Linked DNA regions of Homo sapiens: region 2 is linked to region 1. Evidence: fine-mapped QTL for protein levels in blood plasma. A gene starts in region 1. The other region holds a variant in brackets. All regions are shown on one strand. Distances are between the middles of the regions.

Region 1 (2,911 bases):
TTCCTATGTAGATTTCTCTATTGAGAGATAACTGTTGCTCAGTAGTTGGACACTACTAGTTCACTTTTTTGAGGATTTCAAAACTGAGGTCTCTCTTCTCTATGGATGTTTTTTTTCCAGTCCTATTGCTTCAAATATCATCTAAACACTTTCAACCCATAACTTTATTTCCTGTCTGGGCCTCTTTTTCTGAGCTGTACTGGACATCTCAAATCACACGATTTGTGGATATCTGAAATTTAATTCCCAAACTGAATCCTTGGTGTCCTTCACCTCCCCACACCCAATACTGGTCCACCCCAGTCTTCTTCCTCTCAGTCTATGACCGTCATCCCCTGCCCACTGGCTTCATCACTGGGTAGTCGTTCCATCCCCTTGACTCCTCCCCTTGTCCAGCAACCTCCTAACATGCACACACACACACGCACTTATGGGGAATATTAGCACGCTTCTTCATCTCAAGCCCCCCCTCCCTCCCCCAGCCCATCTCCTAGAATGGATTCACTTGAATTCACTCCTGGTTTGCAGGAAAGTGCAGAAATCCAAGGAATGTGGTGGGAATTGGTGGTCCAACTTAAAGGGTCTAACCCTTTCACCCTTATCTCCCTCTGATCCATTTTCTACCCCAGAGCCAGAGTGATCTTAAACCATAAGTAAGCTAAGGTTACTGCTTTCTAGAAACACTTCAATGCCTTCTATTACAGTTGGGGGGATACAAATTACGTAACGTGGCTTGCAAGACTCCCCCTCCCCTACTTTGAATGGTCCTTAGGAGTTGGCCTTCTGTCAGGGCCTGGGAGATGCCGAGCTTGATCCTCAGTAACTTTGCAGAGGCTGTTCCCTCTTTGGAGCCCTTCCCTCACTCTTCCCCTTACCAAGGACAATCACTTCTTCGGTTCTCAGCTCCTGTGAGACCCCAGGCGGGAGCATTTGGGTGTGCGTCATTGGAGGGCTCACTTGCCATTCTTTCTCTTTTCCCTCTTTCCTCCAATGGCTCCTGTGGAGGTTTTGAGACTCCTCAATGTCACTCTGCTTCTCTCTCCAGTTCCAGTCCTAACAATAGGAACCCTAGGTGCCCCGCCCCAGCCTGCTCCAGTCCCCTAGGATAGAGCAAGGAGAGCTCTTCCCTGCATCTAGCCTGTGACAAATGGCTCTAGTGACAGCCCTCTCTGCCTTGTTTCCAGTCCTTTAATGAGCTGCCCGCAGCCAGCCTCACTCTCACTCTGCTCTTCACACCCACTGAGCCCCACGCTTGGAGCTGCTGGGGGTCTGCCAGAAAGACCAGCTCCTAAGATCCCTGCAGGCTGTGCCTGCTCAACTTCTCAATGTGGCTTTCTCAGCCCTGCTTTGTGCTCTCATAAAATTCTATCGACTTTGGGGTTTTTTTATAAATTTGTCCAAATTCCACTCAGAGTATTGTTTCATGCATCTCAACTATGATTTTGATGGGTTTGGGGAAGGAAGGTGAGTTCCTGGGTTCTGCTGATATCTGAACCTGGAAATCTTACCCATATTGCTGAGTGCTGCACCGGGAAGTGCAGGCTTACTTTGGGGCTGCCTTCAGGGGCAGGAGGCTGTGTGCAATGCAGGCATCACCTGGTGCAGGGCTGGAACATATCAGATGACTTAATGGGCTCCAAACTTGAAATCAGGGCTGCTTAGTAAAAGATGGGATGTATGTAGAATTACATAAGAAAGATCCAAGCTTCCAGGATTTGGAATGAAACAGTCTCTTCAGAATGTGCTCTCAGGATTCCCAGAGGCGAGCTATTTCTCAAGATTTCCTTGACCTTTGTCACCATCAGGAATTAATGTTTAACTGGCACATGTGGCTGGAAATGCAAGAAGAGGGAAACGTGTGGCTTGGAGTTTCAAGAAGAGTGACTGTCTCAGTGCCGAGTGCCTCAGCAGCTTCTCCACATGCTCTTCAGTCCCCAAAGTTGGAGAATCCCATCAAGGAGAGTAGCCCTGTAAGGAATTCGAATTTCCAGCATGTAAGTCTCTGATTTTATACCTACTCAGATTGTAGTAGTGGAAAACAGCAACATGTACCTTGACTCTCTGGCCCCATGTTACTGAACATTTGCTTAAAGGTTAACTCACTTGAGGGAGCTTGTGTGGTGCTTTCTCTTCTGCTGCAGGCTGGCAGGGGTTTTTGTTCAGTGGGGGCTGTGCACTTGGTGGCTCTCCATGCACACACAGTCACTCCAGTGACACATGTTTGATAGGTGCTGGGAATGATTTCATGACTGGCTCAGTAGCAAATGCGGGCCAGATGTGATTCTATTTTTTCCATGCACCACCAGGGATGGTGTTGGGTATTTTATTCCCCCAGCCTCTGTTTCTTCTGTAAATGAGGATTTTCTTAGTATCTACCTTGTGAGGATTAAATCCCATGATTTTATGGAGGTGATTAGTAAATGTGAACTCTGCCCTTCCCTTTATAACATCTGAGGCTCCGTCAGGGCTCTCTCCTTTTGGTGTATGTTATAGTTTACTTAGAGGTCAATTTGGTGTCTACCTATGCAGTGTGATTTGAGGAGAATTAGAAGATCTTTCCCACCAACTTGCCATGCTGAGTACAATTCCCATCTGAAAACATATGCGGATAGGAATTTCTATTGGGAGAATTGTTCGGTTATCGACTTCAAGGAGTCGAAGTTCTCCTGGTTTTAAGTCTGTTGTCGGAAGTATATAAGAATCAAAGCTTAATCGATGGAAATCATTGCTCTCCATCATGCGTGAGTTAAAACCATTACTTCTGAGTGGTCAGTTTACATTGGGCTCTGTCTAGAAGGTTTGCCTTCTTCACCTCCAGTCACATCCCCATTTCACAAGTGAGCAAACAGCCAGAGGAGGGGAGGAGGATGGCATAAGATCTTGCAGCTGGCAGAGACGAAATGTGAATGTA
Region 2 (2,911 bases), 35 kb after region 1:
GGCTGCATTTTCGTTTCATTAAAGACAACCTCATTTTTGAGAGACCATACAAGTCTTTAGCATTTGGGTAGGAATATTCCTGGCATCTCTCAGCCCCCGCTTTAACACAATCTTCCTGTGAGCCCAATCCACTCAGTTTTTTTCTGGATGAAAGGAAGAAATGGGATCTGTGTTTGCCACCGGAAGCTCACCCTTCTCAGCAGACAAGGCTGATTGTCTGTAATTGGTGAGGCCCCAAAGAGCACAGGAGCCTGGTGACAGCCTGTGAGCCAGCCTGCATTATTGATCCCCTCAGAGCTGTAATCACAGCTGTGGGCGTCAGCGCAGTGATGCGTGTCTGAGTCAAATGGCAAACTGTTGTTGTGAGGCTGGACAAATGTGGTCTGGGAAAATGGTCTCTTAATTGGGTTTTAAAGTTCTTGTGGAAGAAAAGACAATTTTTTGCTTCGAAAAAAACTGAAGATGAAAGGACATTTCTGCTCACGGCATCAGCAGCCAGAAGCGTCAGACCTTACCAGCATCCCCTCCTACCTCCTGAGCAGGCTTGCCATGGCAACCTTTGTCTGCTGCTATCGCACAGAGCCATCGTTCCTGCTCTGTACCACATGTCACCCTCCCCGTGCTTCTCTCCGCGAAGATCTGCTGCCAGCAAAGTGCAGAGAGCTCCACCTGACATCATGCTTGAGGCCACCAGGCCACCCTGGTGGCATCGGGGTGGTGTGGTTCTAGATGTGCTACTGACGATTTGCTCCTTCAGGCTTTTAAAACATCATTTTGTTGACTTAAGAAGGTGAATTTTCTCTTAGGACATGAACTAAGCTCCCCCATCCCCCCCCAGAGAAAAGCCATAATGAGTTGTCATGGTGATTCAGGTGATTCATGGTGACTCATTTCATTAGAATGTTCAGAGAATGAACACCTGCGTTCCAACGCTTCAAGCAGAGGGTAGAATTTAGCCGGGGAAGCTGCAGTCACGCCTGCTTGTCAAGCATCAGAACAGGGAATTGTGCCTTCCACCAGGCTTTTCATGTTACATTTCCAATGAGAATGGGTGGGACATGACAAACAAAATGTGTGTGGGGGCAGATAGGGGGACAGGAGGAAATCAGGGACAGGAATGATGGGGTACATAGGAGAAGTGTAAGTAAGGTACAATGCCTGCTCTCAGGGAGCCTGGGTTTCCTGGGATGGCTGATTTAGCTTTGCCAGCCAAAATTGGTTTCTCCCCTTCTCTCTCCTCTGGCCAAGGTTTGTAAACCTGGCCTAAAACAATGTCTAAAATCATTGCTCATGAAAATATAGCCTGAAGGAAATAAAGTACCCATTTTAGATGCTGAATTAAGAGACGCATATATCTGTATATTTGAACCCATCCATTAGTGCTACAGAAACATGAATAAATGTATTTATCTTTCAATATTACTGTCCCACCAAAGGATGTGGGTTGGCTCAAAAGAATAAGTAAAAGTAGTGTCAAGGCAAAGTCAAAATGAGAAATCAGGGTCAATGAAGAGAGCATCAAATGTTAAGAAGAGAGGTTAGCATTTCTACTTAATTATTTTATTATATATTTCTCTGTAAAAACCTATCATGTTATAAACTTTTTCAGAGTCAACAAGAACCTACCTTCTTTTATTTGCCCTTTCTAATGTCCTTTCATACTGGTCGGTAGATGGGTTTCTTCTACGACTTACTTAAGAGGGAAGGTGCTCGCTGCCCCTACCTTTCTAGGCCCATGGCACC[CT/T]AAAAAGCGCAGGCGTGGGCTCACTCCTAACCGTGCCCTACCTAGCTGCTGATTTGGGGCAAGTTAGTGAACCTCTCTGCACATCTGTTTCCCCACCTGAAGATGATAAAACACAAAAATGGGATTATTTTTACAACTTAAATGGGATAACATAGCAGGCCCTGAATCCATTAGTTTGCCAGGGGTTCCCTAACAAAATACCACTGACTGGGTGGATCGAAGAAGAATTTCTTTTCTCACAGTCCCGAAGGCTGCAAGTCCAAAATCAAAGTGTCCACAGGGTTGGTTCTCCTGGGGCCTCTCTCCTGGGCTTGCAGATGGCCACCTTCTCCCTGTGTCCTCACATGGTCTTCCCTCTGTGCACCCACATGTCTGGGGGCCACATTTCCCCTTCTTTTTATTTATTTATTTTTTTGAGACTGGGTCTCACTCTGTCGCCCAGGCTGGAGTGCAGTGTTGTAATTGCGGCTCACTGCAACCTCCGCCTCCCAGGCTCAAGTCATCCTCCCACCTCAGCCTCTCGAGTAGCTGGGACTACCAGGCACGCCACCATGCCTGGCTAATTTTTGTATTTTTATAGATACAGGGTTTCGGTATGTTGCCCAGGCTGGTCTCGAACTCCGGGGCTCAAGTGATCGACCCTCCTCTGCCTCCCAAAGTGCTGGGATTATAGGCAAATTTCATATTATCAGAAACATGTCAGATTGGATTAGAGCCCAGCCATGTGACCCCATTTTCTTTTAATTACCTCTCTAAAAAGCCTATCTCCAAATATGGTCACATCTGAGGTCCTGGGGGTTAGGGCTTCAACACATGAATTTTTGGGGACACAATTCAGCCCGTGTCATTAGGAATCAAAAGAAACCCTTTAAGGCATCTCTTAGTCTCAAGGAAAATGCACCCCTATTTTATAAACAAATGCAAATCGCTCTGTCCGAGTGAATATGAACGCAGAGTCAGGCTTGCATGCTGGTGCCCTGGGCCGTTCTCCTCTGATAGAGACAGGAGCAGTCGTCCTAGGCCAGGCTGGGGGCAGTCCATGAGGAGAAGCTCTCACAATACCTGGCGCAGGGAAGTGGTCAGAAATGTTAGCTGCTGCTGTTACACAAAATAGACCCACCAATGGCAAACTCATACCAACAGCTGAAGTGGTGGTCTCAGGTGTCA

Direction of the effects. Positions count from the first base shown, and alleles are read on the strand shown. Strength reflects both the effect of a copy and how common the allele is.
For the plasma level of the protein whose gene starts at base 1,874 in region 1, T is the low allele of the variant in region 2 and CT is the other (moderate association).

Evidence for each region. A credible set is the group of variants that fine-mapping cannot tell apart. PIP is the posterior inclusion probability: the model's chance that the variant is causal. The UK Biobank Pharma Proteomics Project read protein levels with antibody pairs (Olink). The fine-mapping took linkage between variants from a reference panel, not from the people measured, so its PIPs are less certain.
Region 2: its variant is the best candidate, but not a certain one, in a credible set for the plasma level of the DDC protein (UK Biobank, PIP 0.69).

Annotation. Positions count from the first base shown.
Region 1 is chr7:50,564,368-50,567,278 of GRCh38, reverse strand. It overlaps DDC (dopa decarboxylase), which reads left to right and starts at 1,874. Exons shown (of 15, transcript NM_001082971.2): 1 at 1,874-1,994.
Region 2 is chr7:50,529,503-50,532,413 of GRCh38, reverse strand. The region is part of intron 4 of DDC (dopa decarboxylase); the gene reads left to right. DDC-AS1 (DDC antisense RNA 1) reads right to left here and starts at 655. Exons shown (of 5, transcript NR_033845.1): 1 at 532-655. RefSeq lists enhancers at 6-1,205, 1,565-1,734, 1,583-1,752. The variant CT/T (reference allele first, on the strand shown) is at 1,744.